Linked DNA regions of Homo sapiens: all the other regions are linked to region 4. Evidence: fine-mapped expression QTL. A gene starts in region 4. Each other region holds a variant in brackets. All regions are shown on one strand. Distances are from middle to middle. Region 1 has its middle 32 kb from the start of TNFAIP8. Region 2 has its middle 81 kb from the start of FAM170A. Region 3 has its middle 45 kb from the start of HSD17B4. Region 4 holds the start of TNFAIP8 (TNF alpha induced protein 8). Region 5 overlaps TNFAIP8 (TNF alpha induced protein 8). Region 6 has its middle 23 kb from the start of TNFAIP8.

The links. PIP is the estimated chance that this variant, and not a neighbour inherited with it, causes the effect.
Region 1: its variant is fine-mapped to the expression of TNFAIP8 in cerebellar hemisphere (GTEx, PIP 0.97).
Region 2: its variant is fine-mapped to the expression of TNFAIP8 in whole blood (TOPMed, PIP above 0.99).
Region 3: its variant is fine-mapped to the expression of TNFAIP8 in B cells (Fairfax 2012, PIP 0.95).
Region 5: its variant is fine-mapped to the expression of TNFAIP8 in whole blood (INTERVAL, PIP 0.97).
Region 6: its variant is fine-mapped to the expression of TNFAIP8 in whole blood (INTERVAL, PIP 0.93).

What each region holds. Positions count from the first base shown.
Region 1 is chr5:119,321,330-119,326,557 of GRCh38, forward strand. It overlaps a transcript of TNFAIP8 not described here. Among named protein-coding and RNA genes, the nearest start is that of TNFAIP8, 32 kb to the right of the region's middle. The variant G/A (reference allele first, on the strand shown) is at 2,335.
Region 2 is chr5:119,545,727-119,550,954 of GRCh38, forward strand. It overlaps the pseudogene RPL21P58. Among named protein-coding and RNA genes, the nearest start is that of FAM170A, 81 kb to the right of the region's middle. The variant A/G (reference allele first, on the strand shown) is at 2,242.
Region 3 is chr5:119,405,255-119,410,482 of GRCh38, forward strand. No RefSeq gene overlaps it. Among named protein-coding and RNA genes, the nearest start is that of HSD17B4, 45 kb to the right of the region's middle. RefSeq lists an enhancer at 5,058-5,228. The variant C/T (reference allele first, on the strand shown) is at 2,545.
Region 4 is chr5:119,352,877-119,358,104 of GRCh38, forward strand. TNFAIP8 (TNF alpha induced protein 8) reads left to right here and starts at 3,143. Exons shown (of 2, transcript NM_014350.4): 1 at 3,143-3,245. The coding sequence starts at 3,215. LOC102723444 (a long non-coding RNA gene) reads right to left here and starts at 2,897. Exons shown (of 5, transcript XR_007058912.1): 1 at 2,822-2,897; 2 at 1,379-1,490. RefSeq lists an enhancer at 2,100-2,239 and silencers at 2,890-3,049, 3,678-3,972, 3,770-3,829.
Region 5 is chr5:119,394,229-119,399,456 of GRCh38, forward strand. TNFAIP8 (TNF alpha induced protein 8) reads left to right here. Exons shown (of 2, transcript NM_014350.4): 2 at 1-5,228. Among named protein-coding and RNA genes, the nearest start is that of TNFAIP8, 41 kb to the left of the region's middle. RefSeq lists enhancers at 809-858, 3,293-3,342, 3,623-3,672. The variant C/G (reference allele first, on the strand shown) is at 2,264.
Region 6 is chr5:119,330,104-119,335,331 of GRCh38, forward strand. It overlaps a transcript of TNFAIP8 not described here. Among named protein-coding and RNA genes, the nearest start is that of TNFAIP8, 23 kb to the right of the region's middle. RefSeq lists enhancers at 2,637-2,686, 3,297-3,346, 4,724-4,783. The variant A/T (reference allele first, on the strand shown) is at 1,950.

The DNA.
Region 1 (5,228 bases), 32 kb before region 4:
TTTTGTTACTGGGTATACCAGCATACAGCCAAGATTGAGAATCTGGATGATTTCTAGTCCTGGAGGATAAATACAATACTAATAACTTCCAAATTAATGTATTTAACACATTTTTCCCAAACTCCAGATGTGATTATTCTGTTGTCTGTTTTACATTTCCACTAGAAATAGGCATCTTGATTGCATGCCCTTTACCCCACACTGGCTCCTTCCTGGGTTTGCCTTTCGTGCATGCAGCTCTCAGGCCACAAGCCCAGGAGGCATCCTGATTCCTCTGTTCACTCATCACACAGCTCACCTGGCAGCAAGTTCTTTCCACTTGCCCTAGCAAATACGCACATCCTAAATCTCACTGCTTCTCCCACCATCACTTCTCTTCTGGGTAGCCTCAGAAGCCTCCTAACTCCCCTGTGCTCTTGCACTGTCACTCTCAGACAGTCCTTGTGCAATGAGAATGGTCTTATCGCTGATCACAGTCATTCCCTTGCTCCAACCCCCCACGGCTTTCCATTCCAACGGACAAACTCCCCACTCCTTACCAGGAGCTACAGGCTCCCCTTCATGTGGCCTCTGCCCAATTCTGCTACCTAATTTCCTCCCACTCCCTCCTTCCCTGCCTCAGTCAGGCCACACTGACCACCATGCTGTTCCTCAAACTTCCCAAGCTCTTTCCTCCTACTTCAGAGCCTTTGCACACACCCCTCCCTCTGCCTGGAAGCCCCTTCCCTATAGATTGTTCCTTGGCTCTCTCTCTAATTTTTCTCAGGTTTCTGCTCAGATGTTACCCCAGGAGAAAGCCTATCCAAAATGCTCCTCTCTCCCACCCACTCTCTAGCCCCTGCCTCTGGTTTGTTTTTTCCCTCCACAGCGTTTATCTCCACTCAAAATCCTGTTTTTCCAGCTATTTTGTTAGAACTTTTGTCACTGCTCTATCCCCAGCACCATCAGCAGTGCTCACACGCAGTAAATGACCTATACATACTTGTGGCTGAATGATGAAGTGCTACTCCTTGAGGAGTGGTCCCAGGACCTTGGCCCCTTTTCCAGCCTCTGAGCAGACCATGCTGGCTATGGCCAGGATCTCCTGCTAAGTTTATCTCAGAACCTGCTCTCTTCTTGCTGCCTCCCATTTGGCCCCCTGCTGTTTACCAATAACTCCAGAAATACACAGGCGTGGAGAAGTTGAGCAGCCTCTGGCATTTTAATGCTAGGTGGGGACCTTTCACTTCTCTTCCTGACCATTCCAAACGAGTCCATGCTGCTCCCATTTCTGTAGACAGACTGGTCCTCCATAATCCACTTTCCTGATTTTCCTCCCCGTTTTCTCTGTGCCCCTCCTTGGTCTTCTTTGCAGGCTTCTTCCTCTTTGTCCAATATCAAAACGTTGGTATTTCTTAGGCTCCACCTGGATTCTCTGCCCTTCTTATTCGACTCTCTCCCTGGTGATCCCGCCCATTTCTAGGGTTTCAGATTCTCTACATGCCGGTGCCTCCCAAACTTACATTCCAGGCCCAAGCTCTTGTCTAAGTTCTAGACCTGGGTGTCTAGCTAGAAAATGTTCTTTGATGTCTCATAGGCAACTCAAATTTGATGTGAAGAAAGCTGAACTTGCCTTCTCTTTCACTTTTCCCCTTAGTCAATGACCCAGGTAACTATCTCGAAACTTGGAAGGCTGCTGCTTCTGGCCTTACCCCTATGCCCAATCAGTTGTCAGTATAGTCAGTTCTCCCGTGAATAGCTGTACACTCTATATACTGCCTGTCACTGTGCACTGCCACCAACTAAGACCAAGCCACTGCTGCCATCTCTTTCCTAGGTTACTTAAAGGGCAGTTGCACCCCCTACACTTTCTCCAGTCTAACATCCTATGCTGCTATTGGCCTCATAAAATGTCCATCTGATTGCATCATCCTTTGCTTAAAATGCCTCATTAGAGTTTTGATAAAATCTAAACTTTTTAACAGGGCTTATAAGATCCTTAATAACCTGTTCCCAAGCTGGCTGCATTTCTTGGAGTTTCTCGGAAATATCTGCCTCCCTCAAGCACATTCCCACCCCACCCTGCATACATACACATCTCTGGCCACTTGTTTGTCATTTACCCTAGAGTCTAACATAGGGCACAGTAAGGCCTCAATAAATATTTGTTAAATAAAGGTAGGAAGGCAGTGGTCCTGGATTTTAATTGTATGTCCTCACATTTTAATTTAATTTACCTTAAAAATGTAAATGATTCCAGAGTCAAAAGTTGCTGTTTTGTTTTATAGTGCTCTGTATGTTTCCCTCCACTCTGTAGTTTCCAGAGGGTTATTAAAAATGGACTAAAAGAAGCAT[G/A]TGGGCTTCTGTTAGCAAATCAGTTGTAATCTGTGTTCTTTGGCTGAGTGCTGAGCTTAGGAGGCTGCCAGATGGGGACACAGGAACCAAATCATCTTTGCTTCCCAGTGGGGAACAGGGGCATAAATTGGCTGAATGGGCTTCTGCAGTAAAACTCCTTCAATTTGAGCTTGTGTAAGCCAGGATCAAAATACCTGAGACTTGTTGAGACTTGTCTAGAATGTTTGTTAAACTTTCAAACCTGTTTGGGAAGAAGGCTTGGAACAACAGTGGGTTTGGGTCTTGTGAAGTAAATCTTATTTAAAGGAAATAGACAAAAGCTTAATCATGTTTAATTTGTAACATTATAGGTAAGACTGTTGGTTGCTGTTGTAATGACTCTAAAAAAGAATAGAGAATATTTTTTTCCTTAGAAGTTCCAGGTTCAATGATGAAACCCCATCTCTACCAAAAATTCAAAAATTAGCCAGGTGTGTTGGCCAGTGTCTATAATCCCAGCTACTCGAGAGGCTGAGGCAGGAAAATCACCTGAACCCAGGAGGTGGAGGCTGCAGTGAGCCGAGATCGCGCCACTGCACTCCAGCCTGAGCCACAAAGCAAGACGCCATCTCAAAAAAAAAAAAAAAAAAAAAAAAAAAAAAAAAAAAAAAAGAAGAAGTTCCAAGTTCAACATTCCCAACTTCCCCCTCGGGGCTGGGAGCTCCTGGGTGAGGTTTCTAAGTCTCCATCCTCTCAGAACTCCTATCTTTAACTTCTTCGTGCATGGATCAGAGGGGCCTCCAGTCACTGCTGAGTCACAGGGATAAGCAAAAAGGGAATGACACACTTCCTGCCCCAAGTTCTAGGGAGTTTTTATGGTTTGTTTTTCTGTTTCGCTTTGAAAATTCCCTGAAAAGACAGAAGATTGCCCCAGCCGCCTCCTGATTGGCAGCCTCTATTTATTTATATGATTTCATGGGATATCCTCTCTGCTATGCCTTGTAACTCACAGGGTTTTTGAAACCTTTTTTCCTTATCACAGCAGTATTACATGTTTGTGTAGTGTATTTATCAACTACAATTTGACCAATAAAAAAAAAAGAGGCACTCCTTATTGTCACTACCCAGAAAAAAATATATTGTGCATATCATCATTCCAGGCGCTTTTCTGTGTGCTTATAGTTTTCTCTTTAAAAATTATATATGGCTTAATATAATTTCTTTGCTTTTATATATTGTTTTGTAGCCTTTGTGAAGAGTTCTCATGTTATTAATACTCTGCAAGATCGGTTTTAAAGATTGCATTACTGGCCAGCCGCAGTGGCTCACACCTGTAATCCTAGCCCTTTGGGAGGCTGAGGCAGGAGAATTGCTTGAGGCCAATGGTTCAAGACCAACTTGGCCAACATAGCAAGACCCTGTCTCTTAAAAAATAAAAAATAAAAAAAAAAAGACTGCATTACATGCCATATATGGATGTGCCATAATTTACTTAATCAGTCCCCATGTGGATAGTTAGGCTCTAAAAGTTTTCATATGGGGTCATTGTCATAACCCCGCGCAGTTTCCTTGCACTTGTCCACACTTCTGTCTATTTCATGGGATGTATTCCTGTAAGTGGTTCAAAGGGCCTGTGGAGTTTTAAGGTTTTTGATCTTTATTGTCACTTTGCCTTCCAGATGTTTGTCCTGTTTTACATTCCTGTCATATAATATAAACTCCTTACCATGTCCTATATGGTCTACATATTCTGGCCTTTGCCTAACTCCCAGCTGCTCTATTTTATTTAATTACTTAATTTGTTTATTTATTTATTTATTTTTGAGACGGAGTCTCACTCTGTCGCCCAGGCTGGAGTGTAGTGGTGCGATCTCAGCTCACTGCAAGCTCTGCCTCCCGGGCTCACGCCATTCTCCTGCCTCAGCCTCCCGAGTAGCTGGGACTACAGGCGTCCGCCACCATACCCGGCTAATTTTTTTTGTATTTTAGTAGAGATGGGGTTTCACCATGTTAGCCAGGATGGTCTTGATCTCCTGACCTCGTGATCCGCCGGCCTCGGCCTCCCATAGTGCTGGGATTACAGGCGTGAGCCACCGTGCCTGGCCTCCCAGCTGCTTCTTACAGCTTTCCTCCCCTTGCTTCCGTCACTGTAGCCACACCAGCCCCTGTCCCCTCCTTCCCCTGAAGCATGCCTGGCTTGTCCTGTCTCGGGCTGTAGCACTTGCTCTTTCTGCTGCCCAGACCATTATTCCTGTGGCTTTCAGCATATACCTCCAATGCCACTTCTGCTAGAGTGGTCTCCGTCAGAACCTCCTGTTTATTTTTGCCCTAGCACCTTTCACAATCCGTCCTTCATTTATGTATGTGCTTACTGGTCTGCTGCCGCTTTTTCCCACTGAATGTCAGTTTTGTAACACAGGCAACCCCTTATGTTTCATTTCCCATGTCCCCAGCATCTAAGTCAATGCCTACCATTCAGTAGGTACTAGGTAAATGCAGGTGGATTCATTCATGCTGAATGAATGAAGAAATCACCCTGTCGTTTAGGAATGTGTGGTGTAATAGGGCTGATGAGGTGTGTATAGTGATGGTTACCTCTTGGAGCCAAACATGGCTATCTCTTGGAGCAAAATGTGGGAAATGCTGTAAGTGTCCAAATATCACGGAGATGCAGGAGTGGGAGCAGTGACTGGCTACAGTGTCATGAAAGGCTCCATCTGAGCTGAGCCTTGGGAGACTGGCAGTGTTTTGCAGCTGGTGATGATGGAAAGAATCCGAGGGGCTGAGGAAAGCAGGTGAGCAGAGGCCCAGAGGCAAAACAGTGAAGCACGGTGGGGGCAGGACTGGGGACTGCTTTAAGTCCTATGTTGACTCATGGACTCAGACCCCTGAGCAGCAGGGAAGCATTGCGTGCT
Region 2 (5,228 bases), 190 kb after region 4:
TCTCAATCGATCCTAACAGAATAATCTCTTGACTTCTCACAGAACTTTGTATATATTTTAAAGCAAACAATAAGAAAGCTGATTTTTTTTTCATTGGAAATAAATAGATTTGAATAGTATTACCCCAACATTTTAACTTTGCCTGTTAGGTCAACAAATAAAGCAGAAAAACTGAAAGATAATCCAGTTCCACTGAGAAATTCTGAAGTTCAGAAACTTCAAAAGCTGACAGTTATGGAAAGTGATTTTCTGAAGAGAAGAACATTTTAGGTCAATGTGGACTAAGCTATTTTTATGAGGGGAGAGGATAGAAAATAACCTATTTTACAATGCATAAATAGGCAAAATACAGAAATTGCAAGCCTTAGCTAAAAATGAGTCTAGATTTATATTACATGTATACATGGTATGTTGGTTGAAGTTGCCCAATTAAGTGATTTCTAGACATCAGGGTTAACGTAGCTTAAAAAAAAAGATAACCTGAGATTGCCGAGTGTTGAGGCACTAAAATTCAAAATTTAACCATGTAAGATCTGTTTGTAGCTTCATTCAAAATCCATCTTTTAAGAAGCTTGGTTACATAACTTTTAAGCCTACAGCTCACAAGAATGGAAAAACAGTCAAGTAGAAAGAACCATGTGTTGTTGCAGGGAGCACTGGCTGGGGGTAGTTTTTGTAGGCAGCATGGAAGAAGTCATAAAATTAACCCAGAAAACAGACTAAGAAGTGTCATTTGAAGTGAGGTTGAACAGCTCTATACACCTTAATCTCTTGAAGTTACAGGACTGTCAGTAAAGAACAATGATGGGTTAAATCAGGGGTCAGCATACATTTTCCGTAAAGGGCCACACAGTAAAGACTTTTGGCGTTGTGGGCCACATTTGGTCTCTGTACCGTATTTCTTAAAAAAAAAACAAAACAAAAAGAAAAACCTAAAATTGAAAAAGCCATTCTTAGTTTGCTAGCTGGACAAAAAACAGGCTAGGAACTGGATTTAGCTTGCAGGGTGGAAACTGGATATAGGTGCTGAGAGCCACTGGTTTAGAAAACAAAATTTTCAACTGTCAGCTTTATTTTTTTTAAAAATTTAATTTTTAAAAAATTTTTGTAAATTATTTTATTTCTTCCATGATGATTTAGTGGGACTATCTTCAAACCAGTACAAATATTTCATAAATAATATCTGGCTGTTTTCTAACCAATTGAGTAATATGTTCCACAGTAAGCCACCTCACCTCTTTGAGCAAGAAATACATTAAATTGGAATAGTAAAGACATTACTCAATGGATAAAGACAATTAAAATTTACTTTAAATATTTCTTTCGGGAAGAGGACACCACACTTCTACTCAATGAGTAGAAACATTTTTACAGTCCAGAGGTCTTTTATTTTTTTAACACCTACTATGCCATGAATTCATAGGGAATAAGTTCCAGCAGCTCAGGCTCCTTCCCATCGGTTCTCACAGTGTACTTCGCTGAGTGGAGCAGACTGGCGCTTCAGTTGAATCCAGGTACCTTTGTCTTTGGCTTCTTTTTCTGATTATTTTCCTTCACGCGTTTCAGGAAACTATCTTGGCTCTTAGAGTGCTTAATGTGTTCAATAAGCGCATTAATTCTCTTGGCAAGAATCTTGCCTTTAACTTGTTTGTTTACAATAAGGCCAACAGCATGCCAGGTAACATTGTAGACTCTTCCAGTTTTGCCATGATAACACTTGTGGGGCATTCCTTTTTGAGCAGTACCCATTCCCTTGATGTCTACAATATCACCTTTCTTATAGATTTGCATATACATGGCCAAAGGAAAAACTCTTGTTTTCTAAAACGCTTAGAGACCATATATCGGGTGCCTCTCCTCTTTGCCTTTGTCTTCATCATTTTGGTGAATTACTGGAAGATGGTGGTTCCAGCCGAAAGAACTGTCATATTTATTTGCCTTAAACAATTTATGAAAGTATGAATGCCTTTCAGGAAAATTTTTTCAATTATGAATGTCAAGGGACAGAACTAGGGTCAAGAAACAAATACTTAAAAAAGTTGCTTATTTATATTTTGCTTACTAATGGAGCTTTGTTTTTGCCATTCTTATTTAAATATGTTCACGTAAAATTTTCACCATTAGAGAATAGCTATTTTAAGTCACTTTGCTCATCATTTAACTTGTCTTTTCATATGCTTCCTGTTCCTTTAAGGCTCTTTCTATCTCATAATCTTTAAACCAAATAAAGTATATTAATGA[A/G]ACAAAATGATTGGCATACAACTTGCGATTCTTGTTGAGATGTTGGAACTACCATGCATACAATTTATCCCATTCTTCCCACTGTTTTTTAAATATTAAAAATAGTAAGGCTCATTAATAACCCAATTTTTAAAAATGGGCAAATGATTAGGACATGCCACGTGTCACATTAGAAGTACTCAACACCATGAGAAGTCAGGGAAATGAAAATGAAAACCATAGTAAGCTACCATTACATACTAACTGAGATGATTAAAGTTAAAAAGACTGACAATACCAAATCTTGGTAAGCATGTGGATCAACTGGAAGTCTTATACACTGGTAGCAGTGTAAAATGGTATGACCAGTCTAGAAAAAAGTTTTAGCATTTTTTTTTATAACTAGTATACACTTTTCCTGTGAGTCAATTCAATTTCTAGCTACTTTCTCAAGAGAAATGAAAACATATTACAAAAAGGCTTATATAAGAATTTTTACAACAGTTTTGTTTTTAATAGCTAAAATCCATCCACTAGGGAATGGATAAACAGATGATGGTATATGATACAGTGGGATTCTACTCAACCATTTAAAAAGTTAACAAGCCAGGTTCAGTGGTGTGCACATGTAGTCACAGCTACTTAGGAGGTTGAGGCAGGAAGATCGCTTAAGCCCAGGAGCTCGAGGCTGCAGTGTGCAATGATCATGCCTGTGAAGAGCCACTGCCCCTACATCTCTAAAATAAATAGTTAAGCAGCATGAATAAGTCTCAAAAATATACTGAATGACCAGGCGCGGTGGCTCACGCCTGTAATTCCAGCACTTTGGGAGGCCAAGGTAGGCGGATCACGAGGTCAGGAGATCAAGACCATTCTGGCTAACGCAGTGAAATCCCGTCTCTACTGAAAATACAAAAAATCAGCCAGGCGTGGTGGCGGGCGCCTGTAGTCCCAGCTATTCGGGAGGCTGGGGCAGGAGAATGGCATGAACCCGGGAGGCGGAGCTTGCAGTGAGCCGAGATCGTGCCACTGCACTCCAGCCTGGGAGACAGAGCGAGACTCCATCTCAAAAACAAGAAAAAAAAGTATATGGCATTCTAGAACAAGAAAATTAAAATATGGTGGAAAAGTTCAGAAAGTAGTTGCACTGAGGAGGAAAGGTTGGATTGCTTGGGAAGGACCATGAGAGAACTCTGGTAGTTATATCCTACATCTTGAATAGGAATTTGCATTACACAGGTAAATACATTTGTCAAAACACATTGAGTTTTACACTGAAGATTTATACCTTTGATTGTATATATAAATTTTTCTTAAGAGAAAAAACTATAAACAAATATTAAACTCTCATCCATGATATGCTTGCCAAAGCACTAAAGGATAAAGTGCACTGATATCTGCAATTTACTTTGAAATGCATAAAAAAATAAGAGGGATGTATAGAGGGATAGACAGATGGACAGATGTGACGCCACAAGCGTAATGAGGCAGAAAAATGGAGTCTGGAGGCAAGGAACCTAAGGCCAATTCACGCTGACTTCCTAGAACTAAATCAAAAGGAAAACCCCAACTTTCCACACATAAGTAACAAAAAAAATGGAGACTACTCCCTTTGCAACCCCTCCCCGCCTTTTTCTGCGTGGCAGATGGAAAATTGAAAATATCTGTGATTGGTTGCTTTCTGCAATCAATCGGACATTTGCATAGGAGTGTAACTTTGTAAGTTTGTGTAACTTTGTAACTTCACTTCAGCCTCTGATTGGTTGCTTTCCACAACCAATCAGACTGACTGCAGGCCCAGTCTTCGTTTGCATAGAAGTATAACTTTGTAACTTCACTTTAGCCTCTGTTTGGTTGCTTTCCACAACCAATCACATGCTTGCGTAGGGTGTAACCTTTGTAACTTCACTTCAGGCTCTGAAGTAGTTGTGTGCCATCTTCATTTCCATAGGGCGCACACCAAGTAACCAATGGGAAACCTCTAGAGGGTATTTAAGCCCCAGAAAATTCTGTAAAAGGGCTTTTGAGCCCCTATCTTCAAGCCCACTCCCAGCCTGTGGAGTGTACTTTTGTTTTCAATAAATCTCTGCTTTTGTTGCTTCATTTTTTCCTTGCTTTGTGCATTTTGTCCAATTCTTTGTTCAAAACGCCAAGTACCTGGACACCCTCCACTGGTAACAATAGTACAACGTTAATTATTCAGGAGGTGGTTATAGAGGTGCTTAGTGTAAAATTCTTTCAGGTTTACTGTATTTTCAAACATTTTTGCAATTTAAATATTGGGAAAATACAATAGTGACATAAAAAAAGAAAATTCAACTATATGCTATAAAATAATACACACCTAAAGCAGAATGACGGAGAAAGATTTTTCACTATAGGAAAAATGTATCCCAACACATTATGTCGTTAGCAAAGATTACCGTGGCAGTTAGGGTATGGTGATTATAGTGGAGGGGAGAGGAGTGGAGGGAGAAAGGGAGACCAAGCAAAAGGAGAAGGAAAAAGGTATATTAACAAAGCTTGCATATTATTACATTTATTTTATAAAATTATGTCTGCATACGGGAATATATGGAAATGGTATAACACTGCAGGATACAGTTAAAGCAGTAATCAAAGGAAAATTTCATAGTTTAAAATTCTTATACTAATTATAGGAATATAAATAAATGAATTAAGCATTCAACTTAGTAAGTTAGAAAAACAACAAACCCAAAGAAAGCGGAGCAAAGGAATTATTTATAATAAAAGCAGAAAAAGAAGAGAGTTGAAAATAAAAAATCTAGCGTAAATAAATAATTAAATGAACAAACAAATCAACAGGCTGATCTTTACAAAGTGTAATAAATAGCTAACTCACAATCTTACCTAATTAATTTTTAAAAAGGAGAGTATTTTGCTTAACTGTATGCCAATGAACTTCAAATGCTGTATAAATTTAATGATTTTTTTACATCATTGACACAAAATAGAAAATCTAAACAGATGGCTTGACATAAAAGAAT
Region 3 (5,228 bases), 52 kb after region 4:
TCACTAGTAGCAGGGCTGCTGCAAGTTCCAGTCTGAAAACTTTTGTTTACAAGTGAGAGTGTATCAAGGGACGCTTTGACGTGAGTTCTCACAGATGATAAAATTATTCTTTGTTCCAGAAAAGACAAAGTGGCACATCTGAGGTAGTCAAGATAAGTTTTTGCAGAGATCAAATTAGTATCTCTAACTTTAATCCTTTCCTGTCTGCAGTCAATTCCGTTCCTTCTGCAGTTATCTTCTCATAGTGATGTCGGGATTCAGACATCCCCACCCTGAGTACGATGCCATGATCACGAACCATTTGCTGTGTGCTAACATAAGGCTGCTAGATGTTGTATACAGCACCCTCTTACCATGAGATATATGGTGTCATTCCCTTTTACAGAAGAGAAACTAACACTGAGAAGATTACACATTTTCTCAGCAACACAGCTGGTCAGGGGGCAGAGCAAGGGCTTGAACCCAGGACTGACACAGACCCCTGCTCTGTGCACAGCACCCTAGCACTCCCAGAAGGGTGGGTGGCTGAGGTGAATCTTCAGTATTCTCTTCTGGTTCCAGATGTTCAATTGCAGTATGTTCTATGGTGGGTCAAAGAAAGCTGTCTTCAAAAAATTATCTAACTCACCTTAGTCTTGTCTTTACCTATGTGTGGCTTGCTTATGCAAAGATCCAAGTTAGAATGCTGATATTTATTAGATGTAACAACTAGCTTGTTGCTGAAAGTCAGAAAATTGAGATCCTTACTATCATATCCACAGATCAGATGATTGTTAAACATATGAAGGGGGAGCCACTTACTGGCTGTGATCTTGTTCTGGTTTCTTATTTTCTCTGCCCCTCGTTATTTTCACCTGTTAAGGAGAGATCATTGTAGTATTTATATATAATCCACATGAAGCACTTGTGTAAAGAAGAGTGCCTCACATATAGCAAGTGCTCAATTACTGTTACCACCACCACCATCGTTGTCATTGCCCGGAGGATGTGGATGGGGATGTGGAGGTAACGGAGTGGTGCTGAGTGTGGGCTGAAGCCAGGTCTCTGGGCTGAGATACCTCTGTAGTTGGCAGCTGCCTTTCCTAAGGATATTCTAGTGGTTGAATTTTAGATTTGAAATGCACTTTAGCAATCATCCAGACTGTTTTAAAGAAGAAATCTGATGCAGAGGGAATTTATTTAGGAGACTTGCTTAATCCTTGCACCATTTTAAATGAGCAGTTTTTATGTGAAGAAGATTTAGATTTGGAGTGAAATGTTCATCTTCATTTTGAAAATATTCACCAATTATCATTTTTCATGTCTTTCTCTTTACTTTGGAATATAATAACACACTTAACCAAGGGGACCAGGGCTGTGCTAACAGTTTCATCCGACCAAAACCAAATTCCGTCTTAACATTCTGCTGGCTCCCTTCAACAATGACCCTTCTCATTCCCTGATGTCTGGCTGAGATCATGTTCTTGGTGGATTCCAGCTCCAAGAAAGGTGATTGGTCTGTTCCTTCTGCGTCACCCTTGTCTCTGGCTGTAGCTTTGACATAAATTCCATGTACGCAATATGTAAACCAGCCATATGAGCACCATCTGACAAAAGTCTTTCTTCTCTGTTAGCTCTTTAGGACAAGCTGAAACTTATCTGCTTACCTCTGCCCCCTTTGGTCTCTATTATGGCTCCTCTGTTTAAATCTTGGAATTTCCAAGGTCTTGACCAAGTGTGTGGAGGTAGCAGGGTGGGAGGGGAGAGGGATGATTGGCACTTGTTACATTACTCTGGATTCACATATTAATTCTGGCATAATAATTGCTGAGTGAAAGGTGCTTTATATTAACTGATTAAATCCGTACTTTGCCAGAACATAGGACCTCTGCCCATATGTTGGCATTGGTTATCTGGCCTGCATTTTAGGGACTGTCCTGATTTCTAATGTTATATATTATTGTTCTTCTGCATGCCTGGAGTTTAGTTAAAAATATATATGGTTGAATCCCTAGACTTATAGGGCATTTGGATCTATAGTCATGTATGTTTGTGGTTGTTTACATTTACTATTCAGTATCCATTCCTTGTTCTACTGTTCAAAACATCCTGGGGTGGGCATGGTGGCTCACACCTGTAATCCCAGCACTTTGGGAGGCCAAGGGGGCAGATCACCTGAGGTCAGGAGTTCGAGACCAGCCTAGCCAACATGGCGAAACCCTGCCTCTGCTAAAAATACAAAAAATTAGCCAGGCATGGTGGCTCATGTTTGTAGTCCCAGTTACTTGGGAGGCTGAGACACGAGAATCGCTTGAACCCGGGAGGCGGAGGTTGCAGTGAGCCAAGATCTCGCCACTGCACTCCAGCCTGGGTGACAGAGTAAGACTCCGTCTCAAAAAACAAAACAAAACAAACCCATTCCGGTTTTTCTTTAGAGCTATCACCCTTCCCCAACGCTCTATCCATGTGCCAATGTCACCTCTGATAACAGTTGGGCACATGAGCTGGATCTGGCCAATCACAGCATTTCATTCCTTTCACCACAGGGATTGATGCAGGGGTGAA[C/T]ACATAATGGATAGACTGTAGAGCACCTAGGACTTCTGCTTGAGATACATATAAGAAAACACTCTCTCTTCCCACTGGACTTGAAACTATGAGGTTAGGAACCTGGAGATTCTTGCAATCAATGTGCTCCCATGAAAAAACAGCCAGCCTGAGAAAAAAGTGAATCTGGAAGGCAGAGCCAAGAGAGGGGCAGAAAGGGAGTCCTGATGCTGTCCTCTGAGCTGCTCTTTCAGCCACACCTGCAGCCAGCCTTCCCCTGGGCTTCTTCAGGTTCAAGAGACAATACATTTTGGTTCTTTTGTTTCACTTAAGCCTATTTGAGTAAAGTCTCTTTATTGATACAGGATATTGCTAGGTTGATTTTGCATTCCCTGTGGAAAGTTCTTGCTTTTTTTTTTTTTTTTTTTGAGACAGAGTCTCGCTCTGTCGCCCAGGCTGGAGTACAGTGGCACGATCTCGGCTCACTGCAACCTCCACCTCCTGGGTTCAAGCGATTCTCCTGCCTCAGCCTACCGAGTAGCTGGGACTATAGGCACGTGCCACCATGACCAGCTAATTTTTTGTATTTTTAGTAGAGACAGGGTTTCCCCATTTTATCCAGGATGGTCTCGATCTCCTGACCTCGTGGTCTGCCCGCCTTGGCTTCCCAAAGTGCTGGGATTACAGGCGTGAGCCACTGCACCCAGTCAGTTCTTGCTCTTTTAGAGAAGAGAGAGGGAACCTAAGAAACCTCTAGTCCATGAACACTTTGCCTAGAAACAGACTAGAGAGCACCTGGCATGGGCAGTGGAGACGGACCAGCCAGAACTCAGAATTAAAGTCTATCCAGAAGTATCATGAGAATGTATGGATTCAAATCAAGATTTGTTATTTTTAAGCATTTGTGATCATTAATTTAAAATATTTTGTAAGTCTGCAAAGTGTCCTCAGGTTAAGAAAACAAGCCTTGTATTAATAGCTGGAGCTTGGGAAAGTTACTCATTTATTTGAGCCTCTGTTTCTTCATCTGTAAAATGACCTATCTCAAAGGATCATTAAAGGAGATAATTGATATTAAACATTCAGAACAAGATGTCAAGTACATCCTCAATAAATAGAAGCTATCGCTATTAATAATGCTCTAAATTTTTCCTTTTTGGATTGAGTGATGATGGATCATATCACATCTTTGAGTCAGAATTAGAGTCAAATGTAAACTGGGAGCACCAACTCGCTAGAAAGAGGATTCTGGATTTTTGAAACATTCCTTAGATTCACAGATTTGTTTTCTAGCTCTTCTAAGGTGGTAGGCAAAGGGAAACCTAAATACTGGTTGTTTCTTAGTCTCAGTGAGGGGCCAGGTTATCCAATGGTGTTTCCCTTGCTCAGTTAAGTTGTCAGTGACAGACCTTCTCCTGATGGAAGGAAGGAGTCAGGCCAAGTTTTGCCTCTTGGTCACAAATGAAAAAAAAAAACCCAACAAAACACAAATCAAAAAGCCTAATTGAGACTAACCCTCATTTAGTACCATGTGCCTGGCAGTATGCTAAACACTCTTGTGCACTGTCTTGTCTCTGTCACAACTCCAGAAGGTGAGAACTCTTACCATCATTTTACAGAAGAGAAAACTTGGGTCAGAAAGAAAGGACTTGTTGAAGGACACCTGCTGGTAAATGGTGGCAGCTGGTTTGAATCCAGTGCCTGTTCTTGTAGCCACTGTGCACACTGACGTCCCCTTCCCTGTGCACACTCAAGTCTAGCAGGATTTGAGTCCAAAGCCCCTGCTCGTGGCCCCTGTGCTCACAGTAGTTCACTGAAAGTCTGAGCTCATCAGGAGATCTAGTTCCCAGGAGTCAGTACTCCCAGAATCACTCACAAGGCTGACAGTGGGATTTTCCAGGGGCAAGCTGCAGAGGACAGGACAGAACTGCATCACTTTGAGGAAAAGGGATGTTGTTCCTGGGAAGAATTGTTATATTTTCATTATTTCTGCTTGTTGCTCTGCAAGTTTGGGGACGATGTCTCATTAGGAAGGACAATTGCTTCTTTCTGATGAACCACTTAATAATTGATTTGATTATATGTAGTTAATATAAGAACCAGATGGGAGCAAAAGGTAATTACTTTATTGCAATGCTCAAAGAGGGAACTCAATATGTTTCAGGTAAACACCTGAAACAAATGACTTACTTCATGTAAATTTTGTATTGATAACATGCCTTGTACTACGATGAATTAAAGACAGTGCTAATAAACATCTTCTATCACCCCAGGGATTCCTGAAGTTTCCCTTATCACCTTAACAGTTATTATCTGAGATCTGTGTTGTTGTCATCAAATGTTGTCATTGTCTTGGCTTGTCTCCTTGAGATTTGTGTGTATGTGACTTGGTGACTATAGAAATTAATGAAAGATATGGGCAGAGACTGAAACAGTACTGAGCAAATGAATACTAATGATCCTTATCACAGGTCAACCAGCACATGATTGCTGAGAGTCAGGGCCACCACACTTCACAACACCAAGAGCTCCATTTGCTCTCTATTCAAATACACAAGGTTCCATAGTCACCTGGGCTGTGCTAGACTACAGAGAGGGAAGGGCTGAAAAGTGATTGAGGTGGATTTGTCTTGCTTCCTGACAGCCCAGCATCCACTTACTCTACTTAAAATAGCCTCCAACCTTCTCAGGGAGTCTACGCTTCT
Region 4 (5,228 bases):
AATAAGCCCCAGGTGAGTAGGGTCAATTTACATATGACACACACAAATATTTGATTATACCTCAATGAATGAATAAACCTTCAGAATCTTAGCTACCATTTTCATTCTTCCATCTTGACACAAAAGGTGGGAGTTCCATTATTAGACACTTGCAGGAGTTCAACATAGTATTTAAATTTAAGTACAGTTTGTTATTAAATGAGAAGTGTTGCTAACTTAGTTGCAATTTTGTATCAGGCGGGCGGTAATAGTTTGTTGGTATGACTTCCATACATGTTGCCATGTGAAGGATGTTTGGGGTGTTTCTTAAACATACAAGAATCAACAAGTCCCACCTACAGGAGATAACAAATCATTATGATGTACTGGACCATTATTCACTGGGGCTAAGAAGTAAATTATCCCCTTTTGAATAAAAGCACAGCAAAATCAAAATGACCTAGTACATATCTGAGAGCAGCAGAAGGCCAAGGGGAGCCCTAGAGAATCAGCTGCCCTTTGTCACCATGTTGCAGGGTAGGGGTATGGGGCAATGCAGCCTGCCCAGAGCAGATGGCTTTGAGGTTATACGGGAGACTGAGGAATGTACTTATTCACATAAAGCCTTTTAAAATAAGCTGAGCATTCATTGCTCTTGAGCTAAAACAGAGCATTCTTCCCCAAGGTGACTGCTTGCTTGCATTTAAATACAAAAGAAGTTTCTCTCCAGGCTTCCTGAGGCCGATGGTGAATGTTCAAAGATCAACGAAGCTAACATGAATCTAAAATGAATTATAAGGCTGACGGAGCGCTTGAACTATTCATTCAGCAGTTGTAAAACAAGTAGCACATTAAAGGACATGTATTTTAACATATCTTATGTGGTTTGTCCCCAGTTGGACTTGCAAAATGACATTTAATAAATATTTCTTGTAAGGGTACTTTCTAAAAGAAGAGAGTGAAAGTAATTCTGCTGTAGGCAGATTGGGCCTGAAATTTGGGTTGTCTGGATTTGCATAATCATCACCTTGAAAAGGTGTTGCTTTACCCCAATTATAGATCAGTGGAAGCTCTCTTGTGTAGCACACGGCCCTGGTGAGATCCCTTAAGATCTCTTGTGGACTATCTGTGGACATCTGGGTTGCAGTGAGGAAGGGCAAGGATAGATGGTATAGGGAGAGAGGGGCAGAATGTTGACTTGGGCAGGACAGGAAAAGCCACTTGTGACTGGTGAGGGAGCATTTCTTTGGGTTCAGAATCATCCTCATCTCAGTGTATCTCCCCATAAGTCTGAGATTACTGAGTGCAAGGTATACATATCAGCAGCTCCTGACTCAGGATGTGTGGCAGAGGGGACCATGAAGTTAACTGTGACTTTCGGAAGGGTGCAGTCTGTTACCCTTTCGGTGGCGAGGTCAGTTTCCGGGAGGCTCTGCAACACTGATATTTTCCAGATGTTTCTCCTCTTCTCCCTTCTCTGGCTGGCTATATCTTCCTCCCTTCATCCTGCTCTTTCAGTGAAATTGAGATAACATGTTAGAATCTTAGGCAGGTTAGAATCTCTCAGCAGTAGGATGTGATTTAATATCTAGACCTCTTACATTAATATTTATAATAGCCTTCACTGCTTGTGAATAGCATAAGCACTCTTTTCTGTTCAAAGTCAATACTGAAATAAAACCCAAGAGTATGTTTTATAAAAATTTACTTTTAATGGTGCAATGGTAATAATCTATGTAGTCCTTATGGTTTTCAAATCCCTTTGTGCTTATATTACCTTATTTAATACAGACATAAATCTGTGAAGTAAATAATACTATTTTTATCTTCATTTTACAAATGAGGAACTGGAGGCTCAGAGAGGTTAATTTGCATAAGGTCATACAAATGATAGATGGCAGAACTGGATTTAAGTTCAGACTCCTTAAATCCATGTCTTTTGTACGTTCTTTTCACTAAATTTGCCATAGTGTTTCTATTGGTTTTTGCCTATATAAAATCGGAAACGAAGAAAAAGAAACGAACTGGAAAATAAATTTGTCAAAAGAGTATATTTTTTTCTCATAATTTCCAAGCGGATCTTTCAGATATGTTATTTGAGGACTTTTTGCCTCAGACTGGCGATAAAACAAGTGTTCTACAAAATACCTCCGTAAGACAGGCCTATCAGTGGCAGCTCTTGTCCCCGCTTTGCAGAAGGGAAAACCAAGGCTCCACAGAGCTAAGGGGACTTCCTCTCAGCCAATTTGTAGGGGCCTGTGGGCCAGACCCGGGGGCAGAATTGAGATCTGTTGTGAAGGCTGTCCGGCTTCTTTATTCTATCAGCATTTCAAATCCTGAAAACCTCCCCTTTGGCATTTTGAAGGAATTCATCCCCAGTTTTTGCTGGTAGCCGGGAGGGAACCGTGCTCTCCCCCTGAGGAAGGCCCTTTGGAGTAACTGCAGCAATGAGTGCCCGGGCTGTGCTTGGAGTACCAGTGCTCGCCCGGGGCTATACTGAATGAGTAAGCAGCCCCGTCTGCTTTTGCTGTGCAAAGGTAAGGGTGGAGGCCGCTCCACTTTCTTCAAAAGGCCCCGCTCTGGGACTTGTGAAATTGTGCTCTCTTAAGCTGGTCCTTGCAACCCCATGGACGATATCCATGCGACTTTCCTACAAAAATAACATACCAAAGCCGCTTTAAAATCCGTAATTTTTGGGTTGCAAGACTCCAAGACAAAGTCAAATGGGCATCAAAAAATGTAATCCAAAAATACAGAGGCATTGGTTCTACCCTATATGCATTTGCTATTTATGTAAAACTACAGTGTGCTCTGAGATGAGACTTTTTTTTTCTTTTTATACCTTTTTTTCCGCCCGTCTGGTGCGTTTGCCGACGGTTCTTCTCGGCCCTGTGTCTCGGGAGAGTCGGCTGCCGTCTGGGCCTGTGCCCCACCTGCGTGCGCCCGGGCCGAGCCAGCCCCGCCAGGTCGCCTCCGCCCGGCTGCCGGCCCGAGCGCGCGGCTCCGGGGGCGGACTCCCGCCGCCCAGCTGACACGCGATTCGTCACTCTTGCAGAACTTTCCCCCTGAAAATCCCTGCACCAGAACCCGCTCTCCCGCCCCGGGGAGGTTTTGATTTTAGTGGCTTTCTTCCTTTTATTTTCCGTCGTGTGCGGATTTCGCTGCAGAGCGAACTTGCGGCTCGTCCGAGTACATGTGAGCGGTAATCGCCCCTGCAGCTGGTTATCCTGACATTATGCACTCCGAAGCAGAAGAATCCAAGGAAGGTAGGATTCTGGTTTCTCCTGGGGGCCGGCCAAGTTCTGCGGAGGAATTTGGAGGAAGGCAGTGGTAGAAGAGGATGGGAGTTTTAAAGTGAGCGGTGGGCACTTTGTCCGCTTGCCCTGCGCCTTCGAAGCCAAGTCGGAGCTGGATAAGCGGAGCCCGGGTCTCATCTTGGGCTCCCTTCTCCCCCCGCAGCCGTTCAGAGGGGAGGGGAGGAAAAGTCGGACCTAGTTCAGCCAGCCCACTAAGTCTGCTTTTTAGCTTTCTCTGGAAACGAAAGAGCCCCACTTGGACTCCAAGAATGCAAAATGTGCTTGGAAAAGGGCTGCCTGCCTGCATCAGAAAGACTGAAAGCGGGATCCCTGGAAGAGCCCTGAGTGGAGGGTCCCTTGAAAAGGGGTTTGAGAAATTAGAAACGCTATATGTTTCCGGCTAAAAGGGGAAGCTGAGTGAGGGGAAGCGAAAATCTGTATTTGAGAAATAGATTAATTTTTTTTCATTGCTGGGTTTTCAGCAGTGAGTTCATTTCGTTGGGGGTTTGAGGGGGCTGAAAGATATGAGGGGGTCCTTGTGCAGCTTGAAACTGAGAAGAGTTTGTCTGTTTCTAACTTCGCAAAAGCAAAGGGTTTCATTTACTCCTAACAGAGAACAGGTGACAGGGCTGGAAAAGCTCCAACCAAAACACAATTATACGCTGGTGTTAGTTTGGGGAGTTTATTTGTGTGTGAGTGTTTGTATGCTTTGTTCCTTGAAACTTTATGTATACAAAAGTTCTCTTGTAAGTGGGGGGTGGGAGTAAGGGTGGTTGGGGAAAATTAGAGAGTAAGAGAGGAGACTATTCAAGATTGTGAAATACTCTTTCTTTTCATGTAGTCTCTTGGAAAGCTGGTTAATTTCAAGTCAATCACAGCAGTTCTGGCAGAGGAGCAGCCCCATCATTTCTCCATTTGGTAGACACCAGTTAGGAAGAGCCCTTGAAACTTGTCCTCTTCTGCCTTTTACTGATTCCCCTCCCAGAGGAAAGCTTTGTGTTTCACCATGTAGTCTTTGTGGGCTCACGTTTACCTTATTATGCTGTGTGAGGGAAATAGTCAATAAAAAGGAGGTTTGTTTAATAGAAATACGGGGCTGGCATGAATGAAAAATGACAGCCAGGAGCATTGTTTTTGAGTTTGATGTGGAGTATGGGGGGAGTAATGCTTTCTTGCCGTGTCCTGTGTTCTGATGGAGCTGTGTGCTGATAGATGCTTTTCTTTTCTATGTCTTTATACCAGCAGTTTATTCAAAGTCAAAGGTAGTTGAAGGCAAATAGGAACCAGGCTGAGAGAACTCAAGGGTGAACTTCTGTGTGAATTACAAGTAGCACTTAAGCTGGCGTTTTCTCTCAGGTGTGTTTTCCCTGTCTTTTGAGAAAGAGAGAGTGGGAGAGAAAGTGGAAAAACAGTATCCCAAAGTGTGTATTATACATTCCCATAGCAACATCCACAGTCTTCCCTCCTCGAGGGCCCAGCTCTCTGGTTTTAAGTTTGGAAGCAGCCTGCAAACTGGCCTATGAAGAGGTTAATGGGGCCCCTTCTGCTTGTTCCTCACCTTCCCTCCACTTGTCATCATTTACATTCTGCAGATCGGCCACAAATGATATGGCGCTCTGCTTTTTAAAGAAAGCCCAGAATGTTTCTTTTAAAATAATCTGAGGTAGTAGAATTTTAAATTGATAGCAATTAGGGTGGGATACTGAATAACTCTTGAGGGAGATTGAACACTTTATTAATCAGATAGAATCATATAGCTTCTGCCAGGAAATGAAGGATAGGTGTCTGTGTGTTTTGGGTGTGTTTTCTCCAAGGCTGGTTCATTGGCTGTAATCTAGAACCTTCTGGTTAGCTACCACCACTCAGATGTCGATGAAGCGAGCTATGTTGTGTAAATAACTCAGTTATCTTCTCTATCGTTACTAGTCCTTTTCCTCTTATACGTAGCTTTTT
Region 5 (5,228 bases), 41 kb after region 4:
AAGGTAACAATCTTCATTCTACAGATGAACTCATTGAAACAATTTAGGGGAATGAGGGGCAAAAGGGGAGAAATACTGCTAAAGAACATGAGCATAAAAATGCGTGCGTTTCAGTGTTTAAGAAGGCTTGATAAAGAATGTCACTTTTTTATTTAACTGATAAGATTTTTGTTATTTTTTACTTTGATAAGTAAACCAAAGAATATTTGTATTTCAAGCAGTTTGTGTGGTGTTTCTATATAATTTTCTGTGTATAAATAATAAAGTAGGCATTTGTTTATTTTGTAAAAAAGAAATGAAAATCTGCTGGCCAGCTATGTCCTCTAGGAAATGACAGACCCAACCACCAGCAATAAACATTTCCATTGTCACTGTGTCTATGATTTTTTTTTTTTTTTTTTTGAGTCTCGCTCTGTTGTTTAGGCTAGAATGCAGTGGCATGATTTTGGCTCACTGCAACCTCTGCCTCCCAGGTTCAAGTGATTCTCCTGCCTCTGCCTCCCAAGTAGCTGGGATTACAGGCATGCACCACCACACCCAGCTAATTTTTGTATTTTTAGTCGAGATGGGGTTTCACCATGTTGCCCAGGCTGGTCTTGAACTCCTGACTTCAAATGATCTGCCTGCCTCGGCCTCCGAAAGTGTTGGGATTACAGGTGTGAGCCACTGTGCCTATGATTTAGTGTACTCTCTTGCCTTAAATTTGCCTGCCTCCCAGAATATTGACATTAAAATAATAGTTTACCAGGAAAGGTTCCACAACTAAAAATTCCAGAAGTTGAGATCTGCTCTAACCCATTTCAGCCTAGAGAGGGTGGTCAGTTTCTCTGACACCCTCATTTGCTTGGCTAAGACAAGCAGCAAAGGTGTAGAGTTTCTTCCTGTTTGATATTAAATCCTGACACTAAGATTTGAACTGAAAGTATCATTCTCACTTCCTAGAGCCAGTAGGTGATCAGTATATGCTGTAACAATAACACAGTGACTACAGAAATGACCCTTCTAGCTTCATAACTTGCTAAGTGGCTTATAAATGGAATTCAGCAGCCTTCCTTGACCAGCTGTTTTCCTCACATGTGAAGGCTGAGAATGTGATGGGGGGTGTGAGCTACTGACTGGATGTGTTCTGTTCTCCAGATCTCAAACAGCAGAGGTATGGGAAACGAAAGCCCTGGGCAGTCCATGGATGCTTCTTGCTCATCTGTAGCTATAGACAGGACCAACCAGAGAGAGAAAACGTACGGAGGGAGAAATCTGGATCTCTCTGGACACACTGGATCATAGGGTTGTGCCAGCAGGCTAGCAATCAAATGTGCATGGGATTGGGGGAGCAATGCTTCATCTCCCACAGAGGGAAGGCAGTGAGGAGTAGACCGAAGGAGGGAATCCTGTTTGCTACCATTTCTCAGCATTTTCTGGAGGGGACCCATCTCCTTACCAGTGCTGTGCCTGAAAAGCATGTCTTGGATCAGGTCCAAAGTCGTGATTAGCAAGTTCATTTCTAATACAATAGGACTCCCCTTGAGCATTTAGGGTGGCAAGGAGCGTGGGAGCTGGGAAGAATCCCCACGTGCTTAGGGTAGATAAATCTGAGCCGAGTTAATACTAATTTGGGGATCCTATGAACCTTTTTATAAAATAGTATCTGTTCACGTTTTGAAAAAAATTGTGTTGTAATTGATTTTATTTTGTGCTGGTGGCTTCTCTGCAAAAATTATGAGTGGATATGATAAGTGGATGATAATACTAATGGACAACTAACGCAGAGTAGTTTGTATTATGTGTCGGGCACATTAACTCATTTAATTCTGCCACAATCTTCACCATCTTATAGATAAGGAAACTAGGGGAATAGAAGTTAAGGAATTTCCTGAGGTCACATGTGCTCGAGGTGTCCCAGCCGGAATATGTATAAAATCTTATTTTCACTTAAAGATGATATGGCTAAAGGCAGTGCTAGGAACATCTTTGGCTCAGAGAAGCGTGGGCAGTATGCTGCTGAAATGGTTCCTCATATAGTGACATTTTAGGCAGTACCTAAGTCAGCACAGGTCTGGCCTGTTCTCTAAAGATCTGTGTAGATGTTGTACAAAGACATTTTTCAAAGTTTTCAACATGACTCCTACTTTGGGGGCATCTTGTGGCTCAGTTTTCTGTCTCGTGGAACTTCACTTCTAGGTGCTCACAATGACTTTTAACGTTGACTTCTGAGGTGCAGTGAGCTGCTCCCCCACAGCTGTCCCTAGCAGTGGTGGGTTCAGAG[C/G]ATGACAAGGCACTCAATGTGCATTCACCAAGAGAAGCAAGGAAGCAGCAGTTCAGTACTGTGCTCCCTAGAGTAGGCACGGCATCAGTTTCAAACTTCAACATTATTTTCCAGATTTGGAGGCTCAAAATATTTGAGCAAGTTAAGTTAAGAAATAGCCTTTTTCTGATTATTAGGCCTTTCATATACAACTCAAAATTAGTTTAAGAGTAAAGCATGGGGTGGGTGCGGTGGCTTATGCTTGTAAGCCCAGAACTTTGGGAGGCGGAGGTGGGAGGATCACTTGAGGTGAGGAGTTCGAGACCAGCCTGGCCAACGTGGTGAAACCCCACTGCTACTAAAAATACACAAGATTAGCCAGATGTGGTGGCAGGCACCTGTAATCCCAGCTACTTGGGAGGCTAAGGCAGGAGAATCGCTGGAACCTGGGAGGCAGAGGTTGCAGTGAGCTGAGATTGTACCACTGCACTGCAGCCTGGGCAACAAGAACGAAACCCCGTCTCAAAAAAAAAAAAAAAAAAAAAAAGCATGAGTTAAGAACTTTGATCGTACAGAAATATTGCGTTTTAAACTCTTATATAATAGTATGCCATTCACAATTATCTGGAAAGTTCTTTTTCTCCCACCATGTGAATACACACACACACACACACACACACACAATTTTTAAGCCCCCAAAGGCTTAAAATAGTACTTTTTGTGGTCTGTACCGGTCAGTTGGATTTTTACTAAGAATTTTAATTTATCCTTGAGATACTTGATGAGTGTATATAAGCAGTTGCAATTTAGCATACAAAACCTGACAAATGGTAAATAAAAGAATATGTTTATCCAAATGATGAAATATTTGTAGTAAAAAGTGCTATTCAATTGCCAGGAAATTAAAATACTCCAGTAAAATGAATTAAATTAGCATGTTAATAAGAGTGATAATATTTAAAAGTTTTAGTCAATCTTGCATTTCCATACTTGCATTATCTAAACTAGTTGAACTTTTCAGTGTTTTACTTGATATATTGCATTCTTGAGCATTAGGCTTCTAGGTGATTTGTTAAACTCATAGCAGGTTTTAGTACACAGTGCTGTTTATGACAGAAAAAATTTTATCCTACCTCTGAAATAATTGTACTTTCTGTGATTCAGATAAAAACTTTATAGAAACTCCCTAATGAAAATATTGAAGCATTAACCAGAAAATGAGTCAGCTTTTTGTTTCCAAAATGATGCAACAGGAAAACCTTTAACTACTTATAATCCCGTATAGTCACCATCACCACGAAGTATTGAAAATCTGTTTTCTCTTTTACTAAGTGTCTGCACGGTCACTTATGTATACCCAAAGCCAGAAAGATATTTTTATCTCAGGGAAATTCCAGAAATGGAAACATTTTTGTGTAATATTGATTCATTTCTGTCTCACCAAAGATGTGTTTTCCACGTAGCAAAGAACATCAGCCCCACGTTATAGGGAACAAGCGAGTCCCAAATCGTACCATCTGCTGAGCACTGAGAAAGGATATGGACAAGTCAGTCAGCATTCACAATTAAGAGAAAAACATCTGTGCTTTGGAAAATGTTCTTCAAGGATAGAGAATTGTGCCCTATGTCCACCAAATTTGCATGAGATCTTTATAAGATTAGACAGCCAGTGGATAAGGCCCCTTATCTTTCTTCATGGATGGCTGAGGAAATTCTCCGCCTTCCCTGACATCAGCTGCATAACTGTATTTCTGCCTCGTGGAAATAAAGTAGATGATCAGGCACTTGCGGTTTGTTCTTAATACAAGAAAGACAATTTGATTTTTAAAAGTTTTGATTTGTAGAATAATGTAAGACAATATGTTTCTTTCTACTTTGGTTTTTCCATTCAAAAGCTTACAGATGAATTCATTCGTTTAAAACTGCCAGGCTGAGTGCGGTGGCTCATGCCTGTAATCCCAACACTTCGGGAGACTGAGGTGGGCGGATCACCTGAGGTCCAGAGTTCAAGACCAGCCTGACCAACATGGTGAAACCCCATCTCTACTAAAAATACAAAATTAGCCGGGTGCAGTGCCACATGCCTGTAATCCCAGCTACTTGGGAGGCTGAGGCAGGAGAACCACTTGAACCCAGGAGGCAGAGGTTGCAGTGAGCCAAGATTACACCACTGCACTCCAGCCTGGGCAACAAGAGTGAGACTTTGTCTCAAAAAAAAAAAAAGAAACTCTGTCTCGAAGTAAATAAATAAATTTTTAAAAACCAACCTGATGTGAAGTTGAAACACAAGACGCGGAAATAAAAACTCAGAGTATAAATATCTATATTGTTACCATTATCTGGGATAATTGATGATTTATAAGAAGCTGAGGTTTCGTCTTCCTAGAAATGGACTTTTATTAGGCCAGCAAGAATGACCACTTAGCCATTTAAATGATTTGTCAGCATCTTTTGCTGCTCTCTTCTAAGACCATTGGTTTTCACTAAAGGATAAATACCTGCTAAGCAAATTATAAAATACTATAAGACATTTAATCTCCTGGAAGAGGACTTGCTGATAATTGGATCAAAGTTCCAGCATTATTGCTCTTTTCGAATCATATGGACTTAGTGTTCTCATGACCGAGGAGTCACATTTTTAGCTTGCTAAAATATTCACTGGAGAACATGGTGAAATCCACGAGTGGAAACGTTCCATGGTATTTTCAAACGCCACGTGTCAGGAATTTGGCATGCCTTCCTCTGGGAGAGGCACTGGAGTGTGGCCAGATGGAACCCAGCAGGGTACAGAGGGCATTTGTGGGAGCAGTTAGGAAACCAGGACGTCCAGCTTCTGCCTGCCAGGGAGCTCGCTCATGTTGTCTCTGAAATTTGCATAAGAGCAATTACCTCATATTCTAATTTTAAAGATACAATTTTTAAAGACATGGAAGGCTCTGAGACCTCCTGAAGGCTATTCCTATGTGAGGTATTGTTTACGGGTGGC
Region 6 (5,228 bases), 23 kb before region 4:
CACGCCATTGAAAGAGTTAGCATGGGCAGGATTCAGCATACGAGGAGGGTACAGAGAGGACTGATGGGAAGAGAGGAAGGTTGAACAGAAAGAAAATGAAATTAATCTTGGCAGCCATGGCATTAAGCACTAGGGATTAGGGAACGTCCTGGGAATGCCAAAGCATAAAGGCCAAGGTGTTTTGTAGACATTTCCAGTTCTGTCTGAGGCTGTAGAATTAGATGAAATAAACAAATGAAAGTATCTTTTTATGCAGACACAAATGTCATCACTCTTTTGATGATTTTGTTGAATGTGCTTCTGATAAGGATGTGGGTAGCTATAAAGGAAATATTTTTCTTGGGGTATGTGATAAGCAGTTGATGAAACTAGGCCAGCGAGAGCATGTGTGTCTAGAGATTGTTCTGGGAGGGTAGGGGTTAGGCCTCATGGCCTCTCCTCTCAGCCCTGTCCTATTGTGCAGGGTCCTGCTGAATATGCTGCTTAACCTCTCTGCTCTGACACTCGCTTTGGAAACTGGGATTGCCACCCACTTTCGCAGGGTGTGGGGAGAGTGAAATGATGTAAGTGATAGTCTCTTGCTCTGAGATGCCGAGATAACGTGGAGTACACACACACGGAAGGGAAGGATCTCATTTTCTCATGGCCACCATCATGTGTTTGCAGAGAGATAGAGAAGAAGTACCAGATAAGGTGGCCGCAGACTTCCCTAATGACAGCTTATTTGGTATTACTGTGACACTCCAGGCTACCTCCATGACTGCCAATGCCAGTTGCACTCTCAGGGGCTGGGGGTTAGGGGTTAGGGTACAGATTAGCCCTGCGCTTCTGCTGCAGAGTTGTGCCCACCAAGAAAAAGGCCAAGAGCCAACTATATTCCTGAGCACAAATTGCTTTCACGAAGCTAGGCCTGGACAGATTCTTCAGCCACTAGGCCACCAGGCAGGGCTCCTAGGGCTGGAAGTCCTGGCTGCCTCCACTCTCCTCCTTGCCTTGAAGCATGGGTGATGCATCCACATTGGGCAATCATCACAATGTTGATCCCTGAACCTACCTAGAGTGTCTTAATTCACAAGTCCTAGGGAAGCATGGAAGTGCTGTGCATAGTCATATCTACAAAGAGATATTAGCTTTTTTTTTTTTTTTTAAACATAAGGCTATTCTGTAAGGTTTGACTGCTTCACAAATACTTACTTGAGAATCTCCCTGCTCTCTAGCCTATGTCTGTGATGACTCTTCTTTGTTCCCAAATCAAGTAGGATAAGCAGGATGCTAACTGCTGGGACTGGTTTAAACAGCACACTTTGAATAGATCCGGGGATATCTTGGGCATTCTAGTCTCAAGTGAGAGAAAAGGAGTGTCTTAGGGAAATGTCTGTGCAGATGCTTTGCTTTTTGTTCTCCTGTTTTTGGAGAGCTCTCTCCAAAACCAGGAGTTTCCTGCTGGGTGTAGAGGTGCCCACTGGATACATGAGGCTACCATGTCCTCTGCCCTTGCCTGGTGTTGGGACCTTGCTGGTGCCTCCCCGACTGGGCCTGGAGCATGTGTAAGGGCCCTGATGCCATGAAGGCAGTTGTTTTCACATAGGACTGCAGGATTCTTCCTCCAGCCTTGTCTTCCTGCAGCCTCACTGCACTGCCCCATCCTCCCCTAGCAGAACTGGAAAGAGTGGTTCCTAGTGACCACCTAGCCATGCAGCCACCACTGAGGTCACATTTTAGGGAAATGTGAGAGGCCTGTTCCACTGTTTAGATGCAGTATTTCTGCTCTTTGTAGCTTACCCTTGGAATTGCCAGTGAGTCACAGCCTGCGAAGTCCTTGTGATTTAGGGTCCTGCACTTCCAGGAAGAGCTTTCTCTTGACATCTTCTTTGACCCTTAGTCCCTGATGTTTTCATGGCATGAAGGGCCAGTCAGAATTTGGGGAGATAACACAAAAGAACACAAAA[A/T]TATGGTTTCTAAGGTATAAGTGTCATATCGCTATGAGTTAGTCACATGATAATGTAGGCCAAAGAAAATAAGAAATACAGAGATATGTTTGTAAATTGATGTTGATTTGGTATCTCTTTTGGCCTCCTTCCCAAATTAGTATTGGGCATTTGATTTTAATTTAGGTCAATAATAATGCTCATTACTGCTTGAGAACTCTATGTGCATCAGGCAATATGTTATTTGCTTCACGTGGTTCTCGTTAAATCTTAATAGCAATTCTGTGACATTGATGATGTTATTCTCATCTTACGGAAGTGCAAAATTATTCAGGGGTGTTAAATAACTTGCACGTATACACAACCAGAAGGTGGCATAAATAGACTCTGAACCAGACCTTGGAGAGTTTGTCCATCACCTTCCACTTTTTTTGCTAGGTGCTTGGTAGTTTCAAGGTAGAGTGTTATTGCTACAGAGTATAGAAATAAAATCAAGAAGCTTACCATGTAGGGAGAGTAAGATAGATAAACAACTGAAGATAATATAAGGACAGCTGTGATAGATACCAAAAAGTGTTACCAAGAAAGGTCAACCAAGGTGCAGTAGGGGCTAAAGGAAGAGATTGAGATCATACATACCTAATAGGGATCACCAAAGAAAAGCCTTCTTAGAAGTGGTACACTTGAATCTTACTTGGGGGAGTGGATAAGGAAAGATTTGTGGGTGGCAATGACTGCCAAATGCCCACGTAAATAAACAGGCTCCTAAAGAAACTATTAGATTGTATAAATGCATGTATGTGTATGTGTACATGTGTGTATTGTGTATGCCTGGATACACTCACACTTACATTCATTATGAAAACCTTATATACTCTTCCAAAGCAAAAGGCTGATGATTTTAAGTAGCAACATTGTCCAAACTCTATTCTTAGTTCTCCTGAGAACAGAAACACCTCTGAGCAATACGTATTATTAATAGACGTTCATGTTTATACAGGTAGGAATGAGGTGTTTTTTTTATTTTCTTTTTTTCAGGCATCTGTGAATGGGGCCTCTCCCTTTTTTTTAGTTTTTTTTTTTTTCTAAGTATCTGTTTCTATTTTCTAGCATGTTGAAACGTTAGACTTCCTGTTTCTGCTTGATTTTGAATATACTCCTGTTTGCTTGTCACAGGTAATCTTGCATTTCTATGTAGTTGTAGTTTACAGGGAGCAAGTGCAGGCAGCAACCAGTCCATCCCTGTTGTGAATGTGGAGACCTCTCTGGACTCACAATTAAAGGCTACCTAATGCATTCCACTACAAGTGACGAAACCTAGCTCCCAGAATAACAAGCAAGACAACTTTCAAAGTGACTGTAGTTGACCAGTGCCTTCTGTGCATTTATGTGGTAAGCTTATGGTAGATTTTTCAAAAGAATAGTATAAATTATTTTGAATTATTCTTGAGAAGGACTGAGTCTCCCCGAGGGTGATGCAGGTTCCATAGTGTACACGTCAACAGGGTGGTTGCATGCATTCCTCAAGTCTGTATGACTCTACCAAGATACTGTGAAGTTGTCCTTCTGATTGCACACGGGGAGAAAATGCTGAAACTAGGTGAGTTAAAACGGCCTTCAGAATATGTTTAGATATAATGTCTTTGTTGAAATCTGGTAAAATGTTCAGATGACTAACATAGTATTGCTGTCTTCAAGGAAATAATGTTTGGTCGTGGCTTTAGAGCTACTGTGTTCAACAAATCACTGTTTTGTTTTGTTTTGCTATGGCTCTGGGTGTGGGGAACCAGTGTTAAGCAGGGAGAGGTATGAGTATTGTGGGTGGAAAAATGACATTTAAAGTTTGCATGTAGACAGTTTCATTTGTAAACAGATAAAGATTTGAAATGTTTCAGAGATGGGACTCTGAAAAGATTGGATGGCTTTTTCACTCAGAGTTTCTCTTTTACATTTTCCATGCGTTTATTAACTGTAGGACACCTCTGGTTCCCAGTGGTCTGGTAGCAGTGGTAACACCGTGGGGCAACCCGTAAACACAAGGCTGTTTATTTCTATTCTCTTATTGGATAATTGTTTGAATATTGCTGTTGCCATTTTCTCTAACAACCAAAAAAAAAAAAAAACGGTTTACCTTACATATAAAGCATTTTGTACTTTTAAAATAACACCTTAGGTTTGTTTTTAGCCATACTTAATGCTCCCACAAGTAGACTTAATTTTATTTTTAAAGTAAATTGAAAAAGTTATCAAGGATTAGAATAGAGTGTTTTAAATAGCCCTTAAAGTTATATTGGTATTTATACACTTTTGTTCAAGTTGATATATAATATTTGCTTAGGTTTACTTAAAATTGTTCTGCTCAACAGATTTTTTGGAGCTTAAATTTAATACTAGGGAAAAACTAGAATTTGGAAGACATAGGTGGGTGTTGGTATAGCTAATCTTTTGGTCCATTATTGAACCCTTGGCAGCCAATAAATATTATTTCATAGAGTCCTGACTTCTCTTGTATGGAATGTGGTCACCTGCATATCATTTATAGTAAATGTACATTCGTCTACTAGATGCCTAGAGCTGTGCATGTGATCCTTTCGTGTGTGTGTGTGTGTGTGTGTGTGTGTGTGTGTGTATACCTGGGAGTCTGAGGCAGGAGAATTGCTTGAACCTGGGAGGTGGAGATTTCAGTGAGCCGAGAATCGCACCACTGCACTCCAGCCTGGTGACAGAGTGAGACTCCGTCTCAAAAAAAATGGTTATGTGTCTGTGACTGTATGTCATTGCATATATAGAGTTGAGATCAGAGCCAGCTTTGCTTGGGAGGATTTTGTGGAAGAAGTGAGTTTTGGGTAGAGTTCCAAAGGGAGGGTAGGTAGCGTACTTTGGCAGAAAGACGTGTACATAAAGCTTCCAAGGCTGGAGTGATTAAGTCATAAGCATTCAAGGGTAAGCATGAACCATTTGAGAACGAACTGTAAATTCGTGGTTGAAAATAGCCAGGCTAGAAGTGAAGGGGAGGCAAGGTTGTGCGTGCCAAGCTGAGAACCGTAGTGGCAGAGTGGCGCGTAGGAGCTTGTCTACTCTGTTCCTGGTAAATTTCACTCTTGGATATCAGCACATCCTGACCATGTTGCCATCTAGTGGAACTGGCTGAATTGCCTGTGGGAGCATCACCACCTTTTCCCAATTCAGGATAAACTCTAGTGTGATATCCTGGCAATAGGGAAACGTACTTCTCTTTTGCCTAGGAATTTTAAATGAACGAGAGAGAGGAGGTGAGTGCTCTCCCCAAATCACATTAAT